Homo sapiens: one gene and its partners. The protein of the gene in region 1 interacts with the protein of each later gene in a biochemical or structural test. Each region holds a gene or a part of one and is shown in the gene's direction. Other genes may lie near its edges.

Region 1 (2,680 bases):
GAAGCTTTCTGTCTCCTTAACACTGAGCTGTCATGTTTTAAAGCTTGCTCACATCTTGGCACATTTAAGAGACAGTCACCCCAGGACTCAAAAATAGGGAAGTAACAGTAACGCAGGGGAAACGTTTTCTGTTTGGAGGAGCAAAGGCTGAGAACACTGTGAAAACATTTTGCGCGCACAATAGTAACCTGGGTAAATGCAGCGTGAAGGGATTTTAGTCACACGTGGTCTTTCTTACAAGGAAGGTGGTGGGGGTGCAGATGAGGTTGCTAGAGAATGTTAGAGGATCCCTCTCTGGATTGGAGATAGGGAAAGAAAGTTGCACGGCTGCTGAGGCCCCTTCTAGGTGGCAAGGCTGTGCTCCCTGGTTCTGATGATGTGCCTGGGTGGACATGGCCCCTGTGAGTTTGTACAGTCTTGCAGCAGGATCTAGAGGGGGGATTTCCAGCCAGGGCTGCTAGACGGAGGCCTACTCTTCCATCTTTCCTGATGGCAGGATGGCCTGGCCAGGGCCTGGAAGACAGAGACCTCCTGCCTCCGCCTCAGTAAGACGACAAGGAAAGGCAAATGCCCAAGGGAAAGAAAAGGAAGGCTCTTCTCCCCAGAGTTCCCCATGCAGACATGAGTGCGTGCTCAGTTCAGAATCACTTCTGAGAACTCATCCCTAATGCTGCAGATTTGGGCTGGAACAGATTCACACTGTCTGGTTTCACCGAGGACATGAAACTCCACCTTGCGGGGATAAAGAGAGAAAAACAAATTCATCAAATGGAAGACACATTGAAAGTGTTTTTCCTTAATGCTTATCCTGTTTTTAAACCATTATTTCCAAGTTGACACCTTTTTTAAGGAAAAATAAATATTTTGCGGCATTAAAGCCATATACAAGGTCTATATCAGAAAAATATATTTGGGGGGCTGCAGCACAGGACTGAGGGAGCGGTACATGCTTAAAAGGCAACAGGGCCTGGTTTTCAGTGGCGATGATGATTCTCTATGACAGTCAGGGAAACGTGGTCTCTGAGAGTGATGGGCACATAAAGCCTTGGTGCCAGAGTGCATCGCATGGTGTCCAGGCCGAGTCTCTGTCAGATGGTTAGAGGCCTGGGTCTACCCTGCCAGGAGAGGCGTGTTTGGGTAACAGGCAGATGGAGTTTGGAACACATGAATGGCTCATCACACGCCAACCCTGAGTGGGGCAGGAGGCAGGAAGGGTGGGCTGCCGCCTCTGGTTGGCATTCTCAGAGATGCGCAGTCCATCAGCTTGTTCCAAAGAGTGAACACAGGCCTCTGCGTGCTCCCAGGCTCCTTGGTGTCCCAACAGCTGGAGCTCCTCGATGAGTCACGGGAGTTCTTTGCCAAGAAGTAACGATAGCATTACTCATGGAATTGCTTCACTGCTTTCTGAAGGTTGGCATAAAACCGGGTCATGCTGCGGGGGAAGAAGGAGTCCACCACGTTCTGTGGGAGGTAACCGCTGAGGTCGGTATGGAAGAATGTGACCAGGTTGGTCTTGGTGGGTTCCCTGTGAAGGCAACAGCAGAGCTGTGTTATGATCTGCAGCAGAGGTGCTGGGGACGAGCGCCAGGCAGGTGAGCAGAGCCCAGCCCAGTGGAAATGGCCATGATACAGTGATCGCGTCTCATCCCTTGCTGTGCCCTCCACCCAGGAGTCCTCTCTGGACCTGCTGATTTTCAGGATGGAAACCCATCCTGTCGGGGATGCATTCCACAGCCTCTCCCGGCCTCCAGGGAGGAAGAAGTCCCTACTCCCAGCCCAAAAACCCAGTACCCTGCTGCCCGATTCACTCAGCAAATGCTTTCAGAGAACTCACTTTGTGCCAGGCCCTGAGAGGAACGAAGAGATGCTGCCCTTCACTATTTAGGGTCTGCAACCTCCTGGGGGCTCCTGGGACCCTTTCAAGGGGTCTACAAAGTTAACACTATTTTTATAACAACACGAACATGTGATTCGCCTTCTCTCACATGCATACAGTGGGGTTTTCCGGAGGTTACATGATATGTGATATTGCAACAGACTACACGCACAAGCAGGTATGAGTTTCTGTTAAGCCTGGCATGAAAGAGATGGGCAAAAATATAAAAACAATGCCACTCTTTTCACAGTATTTTTTGTTTTAAAAAAATAGTTTTTTAAAATAAAAATGTTATCTATGTTAACATGCAGTGCATTTTTATGTTAAAATATTTTTAACATTTCTCAAATTTACCAGTTACAATTTCAAATACATCAAATAATGATAGCTATAACCCCCAAGAACAAAGGCCCTATGAAGCCCTCAAATATATGTAAGGGTATAATAATGCCTTATGCCAAAATTTTGAGAACTGCTATTTAGAGAACTGGCGAATAATTTGAGCACCTATGAAGGGATTTTGGCCAAGGGGTGGCAGAAGCTCAGAGGACGGCAGGTGGCACAGATGCTGACTGGAAGTCCAGAATCAAAGGGGCACACGATGTGGAGATGGAACACAACTTGGTAGGGACAGGAAGCGATCTTCACTGTGACAAACTTCTCAACGGCCAGGACAACAAAGGTGGTATAGGCTTTGTGGTGTGCATTTGGCATTTTACTTGAATGCAACTGTCCACTCAGCCTCACCAGGAACCCCAGGTAGCACTATGCCTGCCCATCAGATGTTTCCTGACATCATGCAGG
Region 2 (3,500 bases), on another chromosome or scaffold:
AGGTAGTATATCAAGGTTTTATATAGATTTACTGAACAAAACAGATTGGAATTAATGATATTCTCTGACAGTCATCTTCATGAAAACTTCCTTATTTTCTATTAATTTTCTATTTGTAGTAGTGGAGGTTAATTCATATTTCAAGGTGAAGAGCAAGATTTGTAGACTCAAATACCTTCTGCTTTTAAATAAGCATTGTTTTTCTTGGATGAAAAATTCATAGTAGTGATCAAGAAGAATATATTCACTTATGTGTGTAGAAGGTAGTTAAAGAGCACCTACTATGTTCTACGCTCTGTGCTGGCTCCATGAAAAGGACAGATACAGACATTTCCTTTGGAGCTGAGAGTAGAGTGAGAGTTTTTTAAAATAATTACCCAATGGAATTATACATTCTCCATAGACTATATTCAGGTTAACGTTTGATCACATTAAAAAATCTTTTTTGAAAACCTTTTATCATTTCATCTTTCCCTATGGAAATTGAAAAAAAACATTTTATCACCTCCTCTTTCCCCACAGAAATTCAATGGAAAGTTCCTATAATTCTCTGTGCTCCAATTTATATAGCATTTTTGGGTGAATGTAACATGGGATTATGTGGCTCCTCTGAAACTCTGGGAATTACCTTAATTTTAGCCACTGGAAGGAGACAGGGTCCTGCTGATCATTATATAAAGTAGTATTCAGATTGATGCATAGGTCTCGTCTGTTTTGGTTAGGATGACTGCATCATGGACATCATTTTCAGCTATACTCATTGTTGACCCTCTTGTAGACCTGTGAGAATAGCAACTAAGCCTTGGGATCACTGACACACCTAAAACCCTGCCTAACTAACTGAAACACTGAGGACCCCATCACCTCAGATATGAGATTGTCTTATTGCATCCAATGAAGATTAGTAGAACTACAAAAATGGTTTCTCTGTATGTTTATTAACAGGACCTTAAGCACACCTGTGCCACAAGGCCACATTTTCCATGATGTGGATAAAACACATCTTTGTTTACCATGGATGCTATTTTTGTATGAAATAAAACATGAGACATTAAATAACATGAGACTTTTTTCCTGTATTGACTCAAATATTTATTTGCTGATGACCTAAATGTTGGTTGACATTTTTTATATGCATGAACTTTTTCTATTACGACAAGTGCTACTCATAGTTTGCAGAATTGCCAGCAGCAAATGACTACTGAACTTGGACTATTAACCTGCCAAGTTCTTGTTTTAATTTTGACCTTTGTATAATATCTTGTGTATTCCAGTGTGCAATGTACTGAATGATTCACATACTTTTGTGCCTCTTTGGGTTGTTTTTCAGGTTGAAATAATCATTTTGAGGCTATAGGAGCTAGTGTTTCAGTGTACATTTGCCCTAAATGCCACTTTCCCATGCCCAACTACTACCACTGCACAACCACTAACTTTAAAATAACAGAAATAATATTTAAACTAGTATACTCCACAAAGATCGAATGCAGTTGACATCTCTGGAATAAAGAGCATGATTTTTAAAGCTGTGAGATGGAAGAACTTTCAGAACATGGAAAACCCCGTCACGGTGATAGGTGAAGGTATTTGGTGAAGAAAGATGGGAATAAGATTGTAATATAGGAAACAGAAATTAAATGGACCGTAGCCTTTTTGAGAAAAGTAGCAAGAATAAGAGAATGGGCAGGATGTGGGCAGGGAGTGGTTGGAAAGTTTAGAATGGGGAAGTCACAATCCTAACAGATGTTTTTCAAGGCGTGGTGCCTAATGCCATTCCTACAGTATGCTCCCCTATTTGAATTGTAAGTGTCCATCCTTAGATAGGCACGGTTACATGGGAGACATGGGTTGGTCTTGTCATAATGTAGGCAAACCCCAAAATTGGGGCTCAGCCTGGGGGAGTTCTTGGCTCTGCCCAGGAAAGAATTCAAGAGTGAACCAACAGTGAAAGAAAGCAAGTTTGTTAGCGTAACAGTGTACAGCCAAGTGACCACTCCAAAGGCAGAGCAGGGCTATCTCATAGGCAGGGTAGCACAGAACAGCACTAATGGATTGCTGGCTAGTTATATTTATACCCATTCTTTTTTCTTTTTCTTTGAGACAGGGTCTTGCTGTATCACCCAGGCTGGAGTGCAGTGGCATGATCTTGGCTCATTGTAGCCTGGACCTCCTAGGCTCCAGCAGTTCTCCCACTTCAGCCTCTCAATTAGCTGAGATTACAGGTGCATACCACCACACCCAGCTACCCAGATTTTTTTTTTTCTTTTTTCTTTTTTTTTTGTAGAGATGGGGTTTTGTCATGTTGCCCAGGCTGGTCTTGAGCTTCTGGGTTCCAGTGATCTTCCTGCCTTGGCCTCCCAAAATGCTGGGATTGCAGGCATAAGCCACCATGCCTGGGCCCCCACTCTTAATGCTAAATATAATTAAACAGGTTATTCATGAACTTCCTGGAAAAGGGGTGGGGAGTTCCTGAAACCATGTAAGGTTAACTTCCAAGTCATTGCCATTGCATTTGTAAACCGTCATGGTGCTGGTAGGAATGTCTAATGCAAATGTATTATGATTCCTGGTCCTTGCTGGTTTGGATTGGTTTCTTTGCTACATCCTGTTTTGATCAGCAGCGTTGTGAAAACAAGTCCTGCTGGTCTCCCACTTCAGTAGGAACAAGAATTCTGGTCTACTCGAAGTTCTTCTCTTTGTAAATTAGTCCATTGATAATCTGGTTATTTTACTTTAGTTTGTGTACATTTGGTTTTTAGTATTTGTCTTCACTGCCAGATTGCCAGGTTTGTGAGGGCAGGCAGGATTGTAATGATTGTTTGTTTTCTCCACGTTGCCACATTGCCTGTCACGGCTATCTGGTACAAAGTAGGTAGTCAATAAATGCTGAGGGAATGCATGTGATGACAAAACCAAGTTTCTCTGCCTTCAAAACTGAAGACCAGAGCCGTAGTGAATTCACTACAGTAAATGCCACTTTATTCAGCTATGTGGGAGCCAAACCTAGCGACACCTTTATGTTCTATGCCTTCTAAAATACAACAGCCTGGAAAACTCCTGGCTACAATGGGTGCTCAGTAAATAATATGTTTGTTTTACTTCCATTTATTCTGGGAATGATTACTCAGTTTCCATTTTCACTTCATCAAAATGATCCCTGGGTTTTAGACCTATTCAGTCTTCATGATCAAAAGAAGAATTTGTTGGTCAGCAACTGACTTGTTATGAGTCAAGTTATATTAAAATAAAGTCATCTTTGAGATTAATAATGGGCAATACCAATGGCTGGTTTTTAAGCATGATCTTGTATTAAGCTGCTTTTGAGTGAGTACTGGATCTTAATAATTATTTTTAGTTGTGAAATACTTATTTGGCATAAATCATGTGCTACCTTAGAAATTAGTATTTGTAAATTACAACCCTATGGCGTATAGGTACTGTTATTGATTTGTTATCCTTATTTTCCAGTTGATAAAAACTGAGGTAAGGAGAGGTTAGGT
Region 3 (3,500 bases), on another chromosome or scaffold:
TATGTTGTCCAGGCTGATCTGTAACTCCTGGGCTCAAGTAATCCTCCTGCCTCCGCCTCCCAAAGTGAAGGGATTACAGGCATGAGCCACTATGCCCGGCCGGGGTTTTTTACAGACATTTCTGAATGACCCAAATTCTGCACATATTCCTTAATGGGTGGATTTATGTCTTTGTGGTCCCCACAGTACCCTGAAGAGGTTCAGAGACTCAGAACCTGGAGGGTGCTCCATGAAAGATCGTTAACAGTAATGATTCCTAAACTCCCAGAGCCGCTGAGTATTAAATCGTCAATTAGAGAGACATCAGCTGGGGAATCCACCGTGCATGACGCTTAGCACCTGTGCCTCATTCAGCCCTCGCCACTTCTTGCCTGAGGCTCAGAGACATTAAAGAACTTGTCAGCTGGGTGCAGTGGCTCATGCCCAGCATTTTGGGAGGCCAAGGCAGGAGGATCATTTGAGCCCAAGAGTTCACGACCAGCCTGGGCAACATAGCAAGACTCTGTCTCTACTAAAAATTAAAAAAAAAAAAATGAGCCAGGTGCGGTAATGCACGCGTGTAGTTCCAGCCACTCAGGAAGCTGTGGTGGGAGGATCACATGAGCCTGGGAGATTGAGGTTGCAGTGGGCTATGATCGCACCATTGCACTTCGGCTTGGCTGATAGAGCTAGACTCTGTCTCAAAAAAAAAAAAAAAAAAGAACTTGTCCACTTCCCACCATACCAGCAGGGGTGGGAGGCAGACGGAGACCCTGTTCTCTTAGTGGAATCTCAGTTCCCCTCCTTAGGCCAAGCCATCCAGAAGGAGCTCACTCAGACCCAGCGCAGGGTCCAGGCCCTGCCCTACCATGGCCCTAATGAGGCAGAGATTATCCCCTTTCCTGCTATAAAAGTAGGAACAAGACTGAGCTCATTTTCTCCGGGGTTCAAGTGTTTAAATCATTGCCTATTCTTTAGAGAAACGGTGTTCTTCCTGCAAAATAATTAATGACGTGTAAATTTGTATAACTCTCATGATTCCCTCCGTTTTGAATGTGGAAACCATTTGTAGGAGTACCCTGGTGAGAATGAAGTCCCCACAGTCCTTGGTTCACACATAGGAGCGTGACCTTCCGAGCACAGTGGTAGGTGGGCCAGGGGGTGCCCAGGCCCCGGGATCCTGAGTCCTTGGCTCCTTGCAGGCTGGCCGGTGCTTCTGGCGCTCACAGGGGTGCCCGCCCTGCTGCAGCTGCTGACCCTGCCCTTCTTCCCCGAAAGCCCCCGCTACTCCCTGATTCAGAAAGGAGATGAAGCCACAGCGCGACAAGGTATGAAGTCGCCGGCTACTCTCCCAGGCCCTGCCCACCCCGGGGGCCAGGCAGAGACACGGTCAGGGCCACAGTCAGGGTCGCCATGGGTCAGGGGTGAGAGCTGGGAGCTGAACGGGGTGGGGGGGTGGCAACTGGGGCACAACCAAGGTCAGGTCAGGGAATGGTGAGCTCAGGGCCAGCATGGGGGCTTGGGGCCCAGCCTGCAGGGAGACGGCCCTCTGAGCGGGTGGTTCTGCTTTCCGCAGCTCTGAGGAGGCTGAGAGGCCACACGGACATGGAGGCCGAGCTGGAGGACATGCGTGCGGAGGCCCGGGCCGAGCGCGCCGAGGGCCACCTGTCTGTGCTGCACCTCTGTGCCCTGCGGTCCCTGCGCTGGCAGCTCCTCTCCATCATCGTGCTCATGGCCGGCCAGCAGCTGTCGGGCATCAATGCGGTATGTGGGACGGTGGCCAGGCAGGGAGACAGATGAAGCAGACCCAGGCTTCATGGATAGCAACACACAGTTCCACCCACAGAGGCCTGGCCTGGCAGTGGGGCCAGGATCAGTCCAGGCAGAGCCAGATGTCAGGAAGAAACCTCACTCCTCTCTGCCTCCGTGCTCTGCCTCTCCCCACATGCCAGCTTCATTTTTCTCTGTTTCCCAGTCCCCAGAAGGAATGCCTCCTGCCAATAGTCCTTTCCCTTCTATACAAGAGACCAGCTAGACTGAGATGAGCTGAGGTCTCCTGGGTCCAAGCTCAGGTCACCAGGCCTGGGTTGGTAGGCCCAGCCTGTGTCAGGAGCCCATCTTGGGCCCACTTGTCTGTGATGTTTGTGGCATCGCTTTCTGCGACCGTGGCTCTTTGGCTGTAACTGTATCTAACCATGGTGTGAGGGAAGGGTGGAGATCTGACAGAAGCTAAAACACTGGAGATTGGGTGGGTGACCCAGTTGCTCCAGTGGCGTGTCGGGAAGAGGTGGCCTTGGCCTCAGGGATTCATGGATGTTTAACCAGTGATCGTGGGAGGGTAGATGGCCCAGGTGGGAGCCACCAGATGTGGAATAGCACACGTGGCCTTTCAAAGGGCTGTTTGTGCCAATGTCCTTGGCATGGGGCCAGAAGACAGACTCAACTTGCGGTTGGCTTGGCCCAGAGTGAGAGGTAAGAAGTCATTCTTTGGGATCTGAGCTCTTAGAGTAACTGAATGATGGAGGGAAAAGTGCTCTTGGAGGTCGTATGGTCTGACTTCCATTTTATAGACGCCAAACCTGAGGCCCAGAGAGGGAGGAGCTGCGACCCTGGATTCCAGGGCAGCGCCGGGCTCCACCCTGGTGTCCCGACTCCAGGTCAGGCCTCTTTTTCCCACCACCTGCTACCCTCTTCCTGTCCCAGGGTCCCCAACCCAGGCTTGCAGAACTGTGTGTGGCTTGAGTTGAGAAAGTTAAGCCAGCGTCCTGGGTCTTCCGGCCTGTCCTGACAGCCCTGTGTTTTTGTTTAGATCAACTACTATGCGGACACCATCTACACATCTGCGGGCGTGGAGGCCGCTCACTCCCAATATGTAACGGTGGGCTCTGGCGTCGTCAACATAGTGATGACCATCACCTCGGTGAGTGAGCAGGAGGCATCCTTCCTGCTGGAGGGTCTCTGGCCAGGTGCCGCCAGGCAGACAGGAGCCCCACAGAGTGAACTGAGTGCTGGTGGCCCTGGTCCTGGGGTCATTTAAGGGACATGGACTTTAGGATGCACACATACTAACTACCTGCATGACTTTGACCAGAAAACTCAAAATTCCTTCAGAGCCGGCCGGGCGCGGCGGCTCACACTTGTAATCCCAGCACTTCGGAAGGCCAAGGCGAGCAGATCACTTGAGGTCAGGGAGTTTGAGACCAGCCTGGCCAACATGATGAAACCCAGTCTCTACTAAAAATACAAAAAAATTAGCCAGGTGTGGTGGCACACACTTGTAATCCCAGCACTTTGGGAGACTGAGGCAGGTGGATGACTTGAGGTCAGGAGTTTGAGACCAGCCTGGTCAACATGGTGAAACCCCATCTCTATTAAAAAATACAAAAATGAGCTGGGCATGGTGGTGGGTACCTGTAATGTCAGCTACTTGGGAGGCCGAGTCAGGAGAATCACTTGAACTTGGGAGGTGGAGATTGCAGTGAGCAGGGAGATGGCACCACTGCACTCCAGCCTGGGTGACA
Region 4 (4,240 bases), about 50 Mb from region 1:
GGAGAGCCACTGACTGGCAGCCGGTCGGGCTGGCCATTGGTGCTGACCACAGAGCCTCCACACCTCCCAGCCATGGCAGTGCCGGCCATCAGCTCACTTCCCCATGTGGTCTTTCCCCACTGCTCCCAGACTGATTTCAGATGCCCCGGATTGCCCTGACTGTGCCTTCAGAATTCCGGCCACGTAGCACCCTCCCTCAGCCCCCGGAAGGGTTCCCGCTGAAGCCGTGACTCTCTCAGGCCTCAGGAGCCAACACCAGTTCAAGAAAGAAGACTCGGGAGCCAGGCCAGGGAGGCTGCTGCGGTCATTGTGCGCCCAGGGGCTGTGCGCGCTCCAGCAAAGCACGTGGGAGCCACTCACCAGACCCTTTGCACGCCCACTCTGCGGTGACAGACCCTGAGAGAAACGAATGAAAGCAAAGACAGACCCAGAAAATGGCCTGGCACATGTGCTTCCGTCAGAAGTTCAGAGATTCCCTGAGCCCCAGGCTGTCTGCCAGGCATTGGGTGGGGGAGTGAGCCCAGCCTCCAGCTTCAGGACTCTACATATGGGCAGAACTTGACAACCTGGGCACTCCCACTCCACCCCACCTGCTCTCTGGGCAAGCCACCCTCTCACATGACTCAGAGTCCTCATCTGTAAAATGGGAACACCCCTAATTGCCCTTACGTCCAATCTGTCTGCTCCTCTGTGAGAAGCGGGAGGCGGACAATGCCCAAGAGCCTCAGATGCTGGGGAAGACCCAGCCCCTCTGCAGAGAGGGATAGTTCAGGGTTTGGGTTTTTTCTTTCCTCCTGGGCTGAGAAAGCTCATGGAAAGCTGGAATAACCACGCATACTGTTACAGCAAATCCAACAGAGCTCCCACCGTGGTGGTTTTCAGGTGACTGTGGATGCCAAGCAGGCAAGCTCCTGGTGAAGGGGGGAGAGCAGGGATTAGAAGCACTCAGAAGGGGCTGAGAGTCATGTGGGGCTCACACTGCATTTGCAGCTGGGTTCACCCTGACCTCAGGCCCAACTTAGATGAGGAAGGATTAGCAGTAATTAGTGCCATGTGCCGCCTTCTCCCAGCTCCCCGGGGCACGAACACTGCCCAGCTGATGAGGGGATTCTGAAAGAACCATTATGTCCAATTGTCTCAATTATGCAAACCCTGCTGACATTTCCAGCCAGGGAAGGGCGGCTGGGTGGGAGGGGGCCATGGCGGGGCCACTTCAAAGGAAAAGCTCTAGCTCCCCTACCTCTCTCACATCCTAAGGCTGCCTTTGTGGGATTCCACACAGAACAGCCTGGAAGCTTGGGGCCCTGGCTTCCTTTTCTGGCCTGGGAGTCAGGTCATGGGGCCATCGCTTCACAGCAATCATGAGGGCCCAGGCCCAAGTGCTCACATGCTCCTCATGGGGACTGCTCCTCTTAAAGGGTGGGCCCTCCTCACCCAGCTCCCTGCCCTGGCCAAGGAGGAGGCTGAAAGAGCCTGAGCTGTGCCCTCTCCATTCCACTGCTGTGGCAGGTAAGCTCAGATGCGGGTAAGCACAGGTGAAGGGAGGTCAGGTGCAGGTATCCTCAGGTGTGGGTAAACTCAAGCGTGGACAAACTCAGGTGCAGATAACCACAGATGCAGTTAAGCTCAGGTGTTGGTAACCTCAGGTGCAGGTAGGCTCAGGTGCAAGTAAGAGCAGGTGCAGGCAAGCTCAGGTGTGCTTTCTGGGGCCTGTTACTCATCTCCTCTTGAGGCTGGCTGGACAGGACCCTATGGAGCAGCTGGTGAACCTGTGTTCAGCCTGGGTTCCAAGAGGCTGTCTCAGCAGAAGGGACCCACCAGGTTGATTCACAGAGGGGATAAGTACTCTGTCAGCTGGTCTCAAAGAGGCTGAAACCCTCTGAGCTTCCCTCAGGGCCAGCTTCTAAATCCAGGTGCCAGGGATCTGCTCAGGAGCCCCGGCTCCAGGCCTCAACCTCTTGCCTGTCATTCCTTAGCATCTTACTTTGCTTCAGGGAAAAGGTGCACCTTCCTTAGAACCCCAGAAAATGCTGAAGTTCTAGGAGAGACAGGGTTTATACTTGTAAGCCTTTATCAGCTGATATTTCACCTGTGAAAGCCTTGGGGAAGAGATTGGTTACACGGAACAGGATCAGGAGGGGAGATTACTGCTCCCTCTCACTGCTGGGAGCAGTGCAAACTGGTTTCTGGAAGGCAGTTCAACAACATGCAGCAAAGCCCTGCAAGTCCACACCTAGGAACCCATCCTGAGGAGCGAATCCTGAAGGGATGCCAACATTGACACAGCTTTGTGTGCTACCGGGAAGCACAGCAAACAACCCAAACGCCCAGAAGCAGAGGGCTGGACACATCAATCATGGTCTGTCCATAGGATGAAACATCACGCAGTCACTTTTAAAATGACAGAGAAAAAGGCATAATAACCGTACAGAATTATTGTGTTTTTCATTACACACACATGCACCTGTCTAATCTATTCACGGAAAAAGCCTAGAAATACAAGGAAATATCAGTTGTTTTAGGATGGAGGCCTTATGGGTGGTGTTTATTTATTCTTTTGTACATTTCTACATTTTTTGTCTTCTTTAATCATTTTCTATCACAAATTAATTTTCCTTTTTTTCCCAGAAAATATATCTTTTGTACTTTTTATTAGTACATCATAGTTGTGCATATTGTGGGGGTACATGTGATTTTTTGGTGCATGTATACAATGTGTATGTTTTTTTAAACCTTAGCAAAAATTAGCAAAAGTAGTGGGGGAGGTAGGGAGGAATGAAAATATTTGCAGGGCCAGGCGCGATGGCTCATGGCTGTAATCCCAGCACTTCGGGAGGCTGAGGCAGGCAGATCACGAGGTCAAGAGATAGAGACCATCCTAGCCAACATGGTGAAACCCTGTCTCTACTAAAAATACAAAAATTAGCTGGGCATGGTAGTGCGCGCCTGTAGTCCCAGCTACTCGAGAGGCTGAGGCAGGAGAGGTTGAACCCAGGAGGTGGAGGTTGCAGTGAGCCGAGACTGCGCCACTGCACTCCAGCCTGGGCGACAGAGTGAGACTCCATCAAAAAAAAAAAAAGAAGGAAAGAAAGAAAGAAGAAAGAAACAAAGAAAGAATATTTGCATAAATTGTGTTTGCGTTGACAAGGGATAGGAACTGAGAATGGGGAAGGAAGATGAGACACATTTTCTCTGTCTGAATCAGATATTTAGGGAGGAATTAAGAACGGAGCCCTGCCTCTCTATGAGTGCACTTGATGAATACGGGACTGATTCTGGGAAAGACTGCCTTTGGTCAGGTTCTCAAAACACCATTGTTTTGAACTATCCAGCAGCAGTTTTAATTCATGGCATTTGCAATTATATTTATAGCATAAATTGTCTATTCTCTGCAGTGTATTTTTTAGCCCTCCTCCCCCAGAAAATGTAATTGGAAATATCAACTCATGTTGAATGTGTTTGCTGTACCTGTTTATGTTTTATTGATTATTTTCTGGGAGAAGTTTGGAGTTGTGTTTGGTTTGGCTCTGTGCAACCTCATTTATTTGCTCTGTAAAGCTGATAAGCACAAGAAGTGAAATGACACTCAGGCATTTTAAGATGCGAGTCATCTTCATTCTGAACTAAGTGAAAACAAAACAGATTTTCTATCAACCTAAAATCCTCCTACTGGGGGCAGTAGATGTTTTTAGAAAATTGGCTTTGGCTTTGATTGACAATGTTTGGAAGATGTCCTATAATTTGAGAGTGTATGTGTGTGTGTCTGGGTGTGTGTGTGTAAATGCTGGACCTGGGAAGATGGAAGCCCTCAGCCAGGAGAATAAGAGGACACAATACCCCCAAGCCTTCCATGACCTAGAGATTAAGGGGATTTAACGTCTTAAAACCTCCATTAAGTAGACAGTAGCAAGAGACATGTTGCCCTCAGTGATATGCAAAGGCATATCTGATGGGTCAGTATCTGCCATCCTCCTCTTTTGCAAGCTCTGAGGTTAGACTCAGCCATGGGTGAAGGAATTACAGCATCCATTGGGAGCAGGCAGAGTCCAGGAAAGAGATTTTTCTGTTACCTCAGATGCCCATCGCGCCAGGAGCAATTTTCCCAGCCTCTTGTAGAAAGCACATATTAGTATCTATCTCACTGCTTTTCAGAAACTGTATCTTCAATTGCTAAGTGGGGAAAAATGCATTTACAATGCTAGAGCTGACTTTAAGAAAACAAGTTAACATCAGGCCACAG
Region 5 (3,500 bases), on another chromosome or scaffold:
CCTTCTCCATGTAAACTTTTGACGTAAACTGTGTGCTTCAGGGTGGCCTCTTCTTCTCCGAGATCCTCTCCTGCGTCCCGAGTTTGGGAATGGCCCGGCCGTGCTCAGGCCCAGGCGGTGGAGGCCTCGGTGTAGTAGTGCCGTGCTTGTCGACGTTCCCAGGAGTCCGGGTTCAGAAGCCCCCTCTCCGGTGGATTGGCAGCTTCGCGGTAGCTGGGCTAGTCTTCCTCTGGAAACTCAGTAAAAAGAGTCGGCGCTGTCCGCCTGAGCGCGGGTTTCCTACCGAGCTAGAGGCCAGCCTGCCTCAGGCGCAGAAGGGTTTGCCGCCGGCCTTGGTCAGGGCGAGCAGCTCCCTGGTGGCGCCCAGAGCTGGGGTGTCCTGGGGCGCGGCAGGCGGAAAGGCACGCGCGGGCCAGGGGTGCAGTCAGCACAGAATATGGAAGAGAATGGGAAGTTGTTTTCTGTAGCTGTAGCATTAGTTGTGGTGATAAGTAGCAGAAGATGAGGTTGCAGGTATCCTCAAAAGTATTGCGTGCCATTCCAAGGACCTTACCATTTTTTCCTGTAGATAACAATAGGGTTTATGTATTTTAATGAACAGAGAGACATGATAAGATTTTTCTTTTTATTTTTTTTTTACTTTTTTGAGATAAGGTCTCACTGTGTCACCCAGGCTGAAATGAAGTGGCACTCACCGCACTCCGTCATGGCTCACTGCAGCCTCGACCTCCCAGGCTCCAGCGATCCTCCCACCTCAGCCTCACGAGTAGCTGGGACCACAGGTGAACGCCACCACACCTGGCTAATTTTTTGGTATTTTTTTTTTTGTAGAGATGGAGTTTTGCTGTGTTGCCCAGGCTGGTCTTAAACTTTGAGCTCAGGCAGTCCACCCTCCTCGGCCTCCTAAAGTGCTGGGATTACACGTGTAAGCCACCATGTCCGGCCAAGATTTTTATTTTAGAAAGATCATTCTGGAATTGTAGAGTAAGGATTTCAGAAGGGATGGAGAGAAGGTAAGAATGGATGTAGAAAGACTGTTTAGGAGGTTTTTGCACTAATCGAAGTGAGAAATAAGGGTCCAAACTAAGGCAATGTTAGAGGGGTTATGGAGGAGGAGGGTAATAGAAATATTTAGAAAGTAGAATTCATAGGATTCAGCAACAATTGGATATGGGGAGTGAGGGAAAAATAATAGAATAAGATGACTTGGATTTTAACTTGGGTGATTGAAGAGACAATGGTAAAATATACTGAGATGGGGAATTCAGGAAGAGAAGCACATTTGAGGAGAAACAGTATTTTAGCTTCAGAACATATTGAGTGGAAGTTATCTGTGAAACATCCAGGTGGAATCATCTGCTATGGAACTGTGAATGTGGATTTGGAGTACAGTATAACAGGCTATATTATGAGTGGTATCTGAATTCTTTGATTTAGATAACACCAAATAAGAAGAGTTTGTTAACATAAAATAGTTCTGGAAATAGGCTGTGGAGAACATTTAAAGCCAGATAGAAGAAGAGCTGGGAAAGGAAATTCCTAAGTGTTTGGAGATGTAGAGAAATCATGAGAAAATGTCATAGAAGCCAAAGTGGGATCTGGCACCATCACAGCTCACTACAACCTCCGCCTCCTGGGCTCAAGCCATCCTCCTACCTCAGCCACTCAAGTAGCTGGGACTGCAGACACATACCACCACACCTGGCTAATTTTTGTATTTTTGGTAGGGATGGGGTTTTGCCATGTTGCCCAGGCTGGTCTTGAACTCCTGGGCTCAAGCGATCTGCCTGCCTTGGCCTCTCAAGTGCTAGGATTACAGGTGTGAGCCACTGCATTGGGCTGGGATCATTTTTAAAGGAAGTTATACTTCACAATCAACTCTCAAGAAAAAATAGAAATTAATTTTTTTTTTTAAAAAAGGAAAGCCTCAGGCACAGTGGCTCACACCTGTCCTCCCAGCACTTTGGGAAGCTGAGGTGGGAGGATTGCTTGAGCCAAAGAGTTTGAGACCAGCCTGGGAAACATAGGGAGACTGGTGTCTCTGCAAAAAAAAAGCAATTAGCTGGCTGTGGTGGTGCACACCTGTGGTCCCAGCTACTCAGGAGGCTGAGGTGGGATGATCGCTTGATCCTGGGAGGTTGCGGCTGCAGTGAGCTGTGATTGTGCCACTGCATTGCAGCATGGGTGACAGAGTGGGACCCTGGCCTAAACAAAAGGAAAGCCATACTTTAAATGCTTTGAAAAGTTGAGCGAAAGAAGTTATTAAGAGTCTATTGATTTGGTATTGAGGAGGTTATTCAATTTGATAACTGTGTGAGAACAGTTTTGATAGAATGGTTGGGGGACGAGGTAGGTTTCATTGAGTTGAGGAGTTGAGGTTAGAGAGTGGAAAAGCATATGTAGATTATAATAAATAAATCAATTTTAGCCATGAAGGGGAGAATAGAAAGAGGTGGTAGCAGAGGGTGATAAAGGGTTAACAGATTTTTAACATGGCAAAGACTTGAACCTGCTTTTCTTTTTTAAAACAGCTTTATTGAAATATAATTCACGTATCCATAAAATTCACTCCTTTAAATTATACAATTCATTGGTATGTAGCATGTAGTTATTCATTGGTCTGTGTGACTTAATTTTTTTTTTTTTTTTTTGAGACAGAGTCACACTCTGTCACCCATGCTGGAGTGCAGTGGTGCAGCCACAGCTTATTGCAGCTTGACTTCCCAGGCTCAGATAGATGATCCTCCGACTTCAGCCTCCTGAGTAGCTGAGACTACGGGTGTGTGCCACTATGCCTGGCTAATTTTTTGTATTTTTTTTGTGGAGACGGGGTTTTGCCATATTGCCCAGGCTGGTCTCAAACTCCTGGGCTCAAGTGATCCACCTCTCTCGGCTTCCCAAAGTGCTGGGCTCAATGAGCCACCACGCGCAGTCTCATTGGTTTTTAGTACAGATGCTTCTCTACTTTTCTCTACTTACGACACAGTTACATCCTGATAAACCTATAGCAATTCGAAAATATTGTAAGTGGAAAATGCATTTAATGCACCTAACATCATAGCTTAGCCTCGCCTACTGTAAACATGCTCAGAACACTTACATTAGCCTACAAAATCCTCTAACACAAAGTTTATTTTATAATAAAGTGTGGAATATCTCATGTAATTTATTGCATACTGAAAGTGAAAAACAGAATGATTTTATGGATACCATGTAAAGTTGAAAAATCCCAAGTTGAAACATTGTATGTTGGGGACAGTCTGTATATACAGAGTTGTACAGCCATCACCACAGTCAATTTTAGAACATTTTCATTACTCCCCCAAAAAAACCTCCCCATTAGCAGTAGTCACTCACTATTTCCCCTGCCCTCATTAATCTACTTCTGTATCTCTTGATATTTCAGATATTCTGGATATTTCATATAAATGAAACCATATATATCATCTTTTGCAACTGCTTTCCCTCACTTAATGTTTTCAGGGTTCATCCATATTGTA
Region 6 (3,500 bases), on another chromosome or scaffold:
GCAGAGCAGCAAAGAATATGAAGACTTTTAAAGCTCATGGTAAGTTTTTTGTTTTTTTTTTGAGACAGAGTCTCACTGTCACGTAGGTTGGATTGCAGTGGCACAGCCATAGCTCTGAAACCTCAAACTCCTGGGCACACGCCACCAAGCTCAGCTAATTTTATTTTATTTTATTTTTATTTTTTGGAGATGGAGTTTCGCTCTTGTCGCCTAGGCTAGAGTGCAGTGGCATGATCTTGGCTCACTGCAACCTCCACCTCCCGGGTTCAAGTGATTCTGCTTCCTCAGCCTCCCAAGTAGCCCAACTAATCTAAAAATTTTTTGTAGAAGACTGGGCGTGGTGGCTCATGCCTGTAATCTCAGCACTTTGGGAGGACGAGGCAGGTGAATCACGAGGTCAGGAGTTTGAGACCGACCTGGCCAACATAGTGAAACCCCGTCTCTCCTAAAAATACAAAAAATTAGCCGGGCGTGGTGGTGGACGTCTGTAATCCCAGCTACTCGGGAAGCTGAGGCAGGAGAATCACTTGAACCCGGGAGGCGGGGGTTGCAGTGAGCCGAAATTGTACCGTTGCACTCCAGCCCGGGCAACCGTGCGAGACTCCGTCTCAAAAAAAAAAAAAAAAAAAAAGAAAATTTTTTTTTTGTAAAGACAGGTTTTCACTATGTTGGCCAGGCTAGTCTTGAACTCCTGGCCTTAGTGCTGGGATTACAGATGTGAGCCACTGTACCAGGCCCTAAAAGTTTTTTGTTTGATTAGTTTTTAATTTTTTTTAGATCATTTAGATCTAATCAAAAGTGGCCTGCCAGTTGCTACCTAAAAAAGAGCCTTGGCCTGGCACAGTGGCTCATGCTTGTAAACACTTGAGGGTGGGGGTTCAAGACCACCCTGGGCCAAATAGCAAGACCTCATCTCTACAAAAAATAAAATTAGCTGGGCGTGGTGGCATGCACCTGTAGTCCCAGCTATTCAGGAGGCTAGGGCAGGAGGATCGATTGAGTCCAGGAGTCTGTGGCTGCAGTGAGCTATGATCACACCACTGCACTCCAGCCTGGGTAACAGAACGAGGCTTTGGCTCTTAAAAAAAAAAAAAAAAAGAGCCTGGGAGTGATGGAAGACTATCCTGAATTACAGTTACCCTTCTTTTAGTTTTGATTTATAGTAACTACGTATTAAATTAGGGAGAATTTGCAAGTCCAAAATCCAGCTGATCAAACAAGCATCTTTTAAGAATACTGCCTGGAACCTAGGTGGGGAAAAAGCATGTTTGGAATTACCTTGCCCAAACCAGACAGTTCTGCAAAAGATCATCCATTGAGCCAGAAAATCTTAAGCTTATAGTAGATGCCTTGTCCATATTTATATGTTGTTTTGAAAATCAAAATCAAAATAAACCTTGTTAATTACTAAGAACAGATAATGATCTTTAGAAAATTAATTGATTTTATATGTAGATATGTATCTTAGTGATTCATCTATGATAGAACAGTGAAGACAAACCCCAGTCCCAAATGGGATCTTCTGTTTTTGCATAATATGAATTAATCATGAGATGTGCCTTTCCTCCCAACATTTTGATGTCTCTGATTGGGATTCCTCTTAGAGTTGATGGTATATTAACAATTGCTATCAGCCAGGTAGCAGTAGTAATGTATTTCACATTGCCTGCAAATGTACATACTTGGTTGTTTCTCCTAGTAGCATACTGGCCAAGTGTAGTCTCTCAGTGTTCAACTAACAGATCAATTTTGCCACCATTTGAGAAAGGAATATCAGTCCTGGTTGTTGTCCGAAAACCTTCTTTTGACACCTGGTGAGATGTCAAATGACATCATCAAAATTTGCTGAATGAGTATCAGTTTCTTGGAAGAAAATATTAGGGACAAAAATGGAGTACTTCTAAGAAATACTTACCTCCTCATGGCACAGAGAATGATAATGTATAGGAAAACATGCATATTGATGACTCTCGAGTTGAAAAGTGGTTCATGGGCCCGGTGCGGTGGCTCACGCCTGTAATCCCAGCACTTTGGGAGGCCGAGGCGGGCAGATCACAAGGTCAGGAGATCGAGACCATCCTGGCTAACACGATGAAACCCCGTCTCTACTAAAAATACAAAAAATTAGCTGGGTGTGGTGGCTGGCACCTGTAGTCCCAGCTACACGGGAGGCTGAGGCAGGAGAATGGCATGAATCCGGGAGGCGGAGCGTGCAGTGAGCCAGGATCACACCACTGCACTCCAGCCTGGGCGACACAGTGAGACTCTGACTCAAAAAAAACCAAAAAACAAAAAAACAAAAAAGAAAAGTGGTTCATAAGATTCGAACTCTGTGAAGTTTTAGAAATAAATTTATGATGCTTATATTTGTTATGTTTACATGAGAGCTGTATATGATAAAATTCTGTGTGAAGGTCTGTTTTCATAAATATAAGGTAAAAAATTCAAGACATAAGAAAACCTTAAATCATAGCTTAATTGCCAGCATTGTTTTGTTTGAGTAGTACAAAAATGAAAATGATGCATCTTACAATGGATACCATCGTAGATTTGATGAAATGGTACCATATTGATTCTATTTTTTAAGCTACTAACTTTAAACAAACAGCAATTATCCAGTGTTGAAGTTGATATTGTTAGCTTAAAATAGGGAATCTGTTTCAACTTGCTTTGCGCTAAGAAGAGCTTTTAAATTTAATTATGCTACAAGTTTTTACATAAATATGTAACTCCTTGAATTGGAATTACCCATTTTTAGAAAAAAAAAAAACAAAACAGAAACGAAGCGGCAGATTTTTTTTAAGAATGGCACTAGCCAAACAAGATTTCCTGATGCTTTCTTTTTTACATCTTAAAATAGCACTATATGGAATTGTAGTGGAGTGTTTGAAAAATATTCTGTCAAATCTAAATCTCTGAGGCCTGGGGAAGTGGAGGACTGAAAATAGGGACTTACTGGCATCATGATTTTGTGTCCTTTCCCCTTCTTTATACTATATTGACTTAGCTTCCTCCTCTGAAAATAGGAAGCTAAGGAATAAGTTGATTTAAGAAAAAAAAATTTTTGGCCATGTGTGGTGGCTCACACCTGACCTGTAATCCCAGCACTTTGGGAGGCTGAGGTAGGAGAATTGCTTGAGCCCAGGTGTTTGAAACCAGCCTGAGCAGCATAGTGAGACCCTGTCACTACAAAAAATAGAAAAAAAGTAGCCAGACATGGTGGCACATGCCTGTAGTCCCAGCTACCTGGGAGGCTGAGGTGGGAGGATTTTTTGAGCTCAGGAGGTCAAGGCTGCAGTGAGCCGAGATCATGTTACTGCTCCAGCCTGGGAGAAGAATGAGACCCTATCTCAAACAACAACAGCGACACCCACAACAGTTTCTAAGGCTGAGGCATAAATTATTTTTAGAATAAAAATATATCTTTTAGATTTTAAGCTGCAGTTATCTCCAGTAGTTATTGGTATTTTCATTCTTCCCCTGGGCCTTTGGGATGTAAT
Region 7 (4,181 bases), on another chromosome or scaffold:
TTCTCTTACATGTGGAGCTATTTGAGTGGTTTGTAGGCCATGGAATATAGGCAGAAGTGATTGCAAAATTGTGTCTTCATTATGTTTTCTTATTTCTGCTCCATCCTGGGGATGCCTCTTTGGATGTAATGCTTTTACTTTTCACAGTGTCCAGGATTATTGCCCTCTTCATGTGGGCTACAGGTTTGGGTGGTGGGCTGAAAGTGTCTTGATGAGACAAGATCTGGTGACCCTGAGTTGCTGGGCATAAGCTGGGCCATCTGGTTTGTGCCTGGTTCTGGCTTCCCTGGGGGCTGGAGGGGCAGATGGGGAGGGGTCAGATCCTGGTTGCTGTGAATTAGAGATGAACAGTGACACGCCATCTTACATCACAAACTAGAAACCATGTCAACTCCACTCTTCCCTTAGGGCTGCAGGTAATTAGTCTCAGTGATCCTAAGTTTTGAATCATGTAAGAAAGTATCCCTTGGGCAATAGGTCTACCTGTATATTAGGAAACCCTCCTGCATATACCGTTTTAAAAAGATGCATACGCCAAATGCTGCAACGTATTATTATGTAAAATTTAAACAGTATTCATGAGGCTCCTGTTGAATCAGTCAACGTATTTGTTTTGACAAATATCAGAGTCTGCAAAGAAGTATCTCAGACCCTCCCCTAGCAGTGTATTGTGATGATGTTGCCAATAATACAGAATATTAATAATGACAGCAATAGCTCTTATGTTCTTATCGGTATGTTCCAGGCCCAGTGCTAAGCAATTCTTAGTTACTTCCCACCAAACAGGTGGCTTTGTCTCATTTATTTACTGGAATTTAAAGAGTCTGGTTCTCAAATGTTTTGCAGCATCCACTTTTCCTGGACAAGTTAAGCAGAGGGCTGGGTCCCACCCCCCAGAGTACCTGATTCAGTGGGTGGGGACTAAGAACTTGCATTGGTAACAAATTCGCAGGTAATGCTGATGTCATCTGAAAATTACTGATAGGGGAAATTTTAATATTATCATATTAAATAATTATCTTCATTTTCCTTAGGAATCTCCATCTCAAGGCTCAGAGAGATGAACTGCTGGCGCAGGGATACACAGGGAGGAAAGTCAAGGCGTGAGTTGCCTGGTAGAGACATTTGAGAGTGGGTCATTGCCTCAGATAATTTCCACGGAACTCTGTGTGCCTCTCCTTTAAGAAGAGGTGAAGCCAATCCCTTTCTTGGGAGCCTTGAGAAGCCGCCTCACCGAGAACAGAAAGTGCGCTCCAGGTACCACCCGGATTCCGTCAAACTACATTACCCAGAAGGCAGTGCTACAAGGGACGGAAGCCGACCCCAAGCCATAGACGGAAGGCGCAGAGGGGCGTTCCCGTAGCGGCGTGGGCGGGACTTCCGGCGTCCAGTCTTCGTCCGCCGTTAGGTTGCGGCTGCTGTGGTTGCCAACGCTACACTGGGTAGAACGCCAGACAGGGGCCACTTTTCGAGACCGAGTAGAGACGGACAGTGAGGAGGATAGGACCCACTTACACGCTTTTATGTCAGCCGCGATCCCACCCCCACAAGCGTCTGCAAAACCCTTCCTGGGGCCTTGGCGACAGCCCTGTGTCCTCACGGCGCGCAGAGGCGGCGCCGCGAACCTTGTGTGCATTTTACACGACGGCGGGGACTGAGGTCCCTCGCAGCCCAGAGCCGGAGCCCGGGGTCGGCCGAGCCCGCAGGACCGGCTTCCTCGCCGACTCTCACGGCCTCACCCAGCCCCCTGGGCCCATGGCGGCGCCGGCGTTGGTGAGTGGAGGGTTCCGCAGCCCGCGCGAGCTCGGGTCACCGCCCGCATGCACCCATCCGCTGTAATACGGCGGATGCCGGGACTCTGTGCTTCTCCCTTTTGATGCCCTAGGTTATGGAGATCCCGGGAGAGGGTGAGGTGAGAGGGCAGGGCTAATCACTTCCTACCCAGGGTCCTGAATCCAGGACAGGAGTTGTAAGGAGAGGTCCCTGTCTCTGGCTCTAACCTGGAGCTGTCGCCTCGCTGCCCTCGGCCTCCATTCCCTCGGGTCTAAAATGCGAGTCTCAGTAATTTTCTCTGTGGAGGGAGCTGGAGAGGGTACGCTTGTGACGTGGGTCCTGTCTTTCACTGCTCGGAGAGCATCACTCTAGGTGCCGTCTTTGAAGAAGGACTCTCTAGGTCCTGCTGTTGTTTTAGGGGATCATTCCAGCGGAAGTCTGGCCCTACCAAAAGCTGGGAGAGGGAATGAGAGCCTCGAGGGCAAGAGGTGAGGCGGGAGCAGCATTTTTGGCAGGAGGCTAGAAGACAAGAAGCTCATTGGATTTATCTTTGCAGATGCCGTCTGTTTATTACAAATGAATCTGGCTTGCCGCCTAACAGCAGTGAATCCGTGCTTCTGTTTAACACATGCTCTTGTATTTGAAAAGCAAATCCAGCACAATATTCATTAATGACAGTGTACATGAATGTATGTCTCTTGGAGTGTGAGCACATAAGGCCCCAAGTTACTCTCCAGCATGTCACACTGTTTACTCCTCGTAGCTCTGATCACCTTCAGGAGTTGTCTATTCATTTTTCCTCACCTGGTCTGTTCTCTAACTTCAATCTAACCTTGTTCCAGGGTCTCTTCAGAGAGAGCTTCCCTGGTTGCATCATGTAAAGTCTCTCCCAGTCTTTGTGGTCTTCTCACTCTTGTGTTGTTTTCTAGAGTCTTCTGACTTTATCTTGATTGTTTATTGCTGAGGATCTGTCCCCCAACCCCAGAATGTCAGCTTCTGTTCTGTTTTTCATCCCCAGGCCCAAAACTATTCTGTTCTGGGCCTGTACCACTTAGTCGATAAGTGATTAATGAATGAGATTCTATCCTCTGGGGCTCCCATCCTACTTAGATTTCATCTAACCCAACCCCACCCCATACCCCACCATGGCTGCAAAGTCACTGCCCAATCCACCAGGACACTCCCCCTGCCATTCTTCTCTCCTGCACATGCCAAGCTCATTGGACGATTTTCTCTGTCACATTGTCGCCAGATCTCTGCAAGGCTGCTCCTGGATGTGTGCTGCATTGAGCTCTCCTAGGGTGCGACAGGAGCAAATAGGAAAAATACTAACAGCAACAAATAGTAGCTGGTCTTCACTGAGCGCATTGATAATGTGCTGAGAGGCAGTTTCTGTGTATTACCTTATTTAACGCCCTTCTTCTCAGAGTAAAATTCTTTCATTTTCCTTTCTTTACAGAAGAGGAACCGGAGACTCAGATTAACTACCCAAGGTTGCATAGCTCATAAGTAACAGAAACAATCCAGTATGTCGAGCATAAAAGCCTACATTTTTTATTTATTTATTTTTTTTGAAAGAGGGTCTAGCTCTGTTGCTCACACTGGAGTGCAGTGGCCCCATCGCAGCTCACTAGCAATCCTCCCCACTGAGCCTCCTGAGTAGCTAGGATTATCGGTGTGTGCCACCACACCCAGCTAATTTTTTTTATTTTTTGTAGAGATGGGCTCACTGTGTTGCCCAGGCTGGCCTCGAACTCCTGAACTCAAACAGTCTTCCCACTTTGGCCTCTCAAAGTACTTACTGGCATGAGCCGACGTGCCCAGCCAGAAGCTTACATTTTTAACCAATATTTCACCCACAGTGGATTGGAGATCCCTGGGGGCGACAGCTGAAGTACACTTTGCAAGGGGAAGGTGCAGGCCTCTCTCTAGCAGGTGGACATTGGAATGAAGGGGTCTTTGGGGAACCTTCCCGGCAAAGGGAACTGCATGGACAAAGGCAGAGGCATGAGGAGACATAGAGTGACACCAAGGCTTGTCACCTGCTGACGTGTCTTGTGTGATCATCTGATGATCATCATGCCAACATCCCATTCTCACCCAGGACAGACGTGGTGCTTAAGGCAGCTGCCAGGTTCTTAGAGCCACAGCCTGCATTGCCCTTGGCCACTTGTGTTACCTGTACCTAAGGGAAATGTGCTAACCGTGGCTCAGGAAGAAAAAGAACAGGTTGGCGCTCATTGTGGGATATTCCAGGGAGTCTACAAGTCCCAGCTGCCTGAGGGCAGGGAAACTTTGTTTGAGCTCTCCCAAGCCCTAGGCAGTTGGCACCTCTTCAGGTGCCTCTTCTATGAGGCAAAGGAAGGCTCTGCTCTTCCTTCCATACCTCTGGCAATATTTTCAGGAGT

The links.
Region 2: the proteins of IL16 (region 1) and LPAR1 interact in a test that uses a peptide from one of them, tested with the Homo sapiens proteins (one large-scale study listed by IntAct).
Region 3: the proteins of IL16 (region 1) and SLC2A7 interact in a test that uses a peptide from one of them, tested with the Homo sapiens proteins (one large-scale study listed by IntAct).
Region 4: the proteins of IL16 (region 1) and TRPM1 interact in a test that uses a peptide from one of them, tested with the Homo sapiens proteins (one large-scale study listed by IntAct).
Region 5: the proteins of IL16 (region 1) and RALBP1 interact in a test that uses a peptide from one of them, tested with the Homo sapiens proteins (one large-scale study listed by IntAct).
Region 6: the proteins of IL16 (region 1) and APPL1 interact in a test that uses a peptide from one of them, tested with the Homo sapiens proteins (one large-scale study listed by IntAct).
Region 7: the proteins of IL16 (region 1) and ZNF599 interact in a test that uses a peptide from one of them, tested with the Homo sapiens proteins (one large-scale study listed by IntAct).

The regions. Positions count from the first base shown.
Region 1 is NC_000015.10:81,311,879-81,314,558, forward strand, and holds the end of IL16 (pro-interleukin-16), read left to right. Parts: 3' UTR 1-1,377; coding exon of another isoform or gene 1,378-1,525; 3' UTR 1,526-2,180; downstream 2,181-2,680. Other genes in the region: STARD5 (stAR-related lipid transfer protein 5), read right to left, coding at 1,378-1,525. UniProt on the Homo sapiens protein: Interleukin-16 stimulates a migratory response in CD4+ lymphocytes, monocytes, and eosinophils. Primes CD4+ T-cells for IL-2 and IL-15 responsiveness. Also induces T-lymphocyte expression of interleukin 2 receptor. Ligand for CD4.
Region 2 is NC_000009.12:110,937,471-110,940,970, reverse strand, and holds part of LPAR1 (lysophosphatidic acid receptor 1), read left to right. Parts: exon of another isoform or gene 1-1,059; intron 1,060-3,500.
Region 3 is NC_000001.11:9,012,924-9,016,423, reverse strand, and holds part of SLC2A7 (solute carrier family 2, facilitated glucose transporter member 7), read left to right. Parts: intron 1-1,181; coding exon 1,182-1,307; intron 1,308-1,555; coding exon 1,556-1,743; intron 1,744-2,788; coding exon 2,789-2,899; intron 2,900-3,500. UniProt on the Homo sapiens protein: Probable sugar transporter. Even if its physiological substrate is subject to discussion, it is able to transport glucose and fructose. Does not transport galactose, 2-deoxy-d-glucose and xylose.
Region 4 is NC_000015.10:31,098,926-31,103,165, reverse strand, and holds the start of TRPM1 (transient receptor potential cation channel subfamily M member 1), read left to right. Parts: upstream 1-1,440; 5' UTR 1,441-1,509; intron 1,510-4,240.
Region 5 is NC_000018.10:9,478,513-9,482,012, forward strand, and holds part of RALBP1 (ralA-binding protein 1), read left to right. Parts: exon of another isoform or gene 1-10; intron 11-3,500. UniProt on the Homo sapiens protein: Multifunctional protein that functions as a downstream effector of RALA and RALB. As a GTPase-activating protein/GAP can inactivate CDC42 and RAC1 by stimulating their GTPase activity.
Region 6 is NC_000003.12:57,230,729-57,234,228, forward strand, and holds part of APPL1 (DCC-interacting protein 13-alpha), read left to right. Parts: exon of another isoform or gene 1-36; coding exon of another isoform or gene 37-39; intron 40-3,500. UniProt on the Homo sapiens protein: Multifunctional adapter protein that binds to various membrane receptors, nuclear factors and signaling proteins to regulate many processes, such as cell proliferation, immune response, endosomal trafficking and cell metabolism.
Region 7 is NC_000019.10:34,770,416-34,774,596, reverse strand, and holds the start of ZNF599 (zinc finger protein 599), read left to right. Parts: upstream 1-1,381; 5' UTR 1,382-1,755; coding exon 1,756-1,773; intron 1,774-4,181. UniProt on the Homo sapiens protein: May be involved in transcriptional regulation.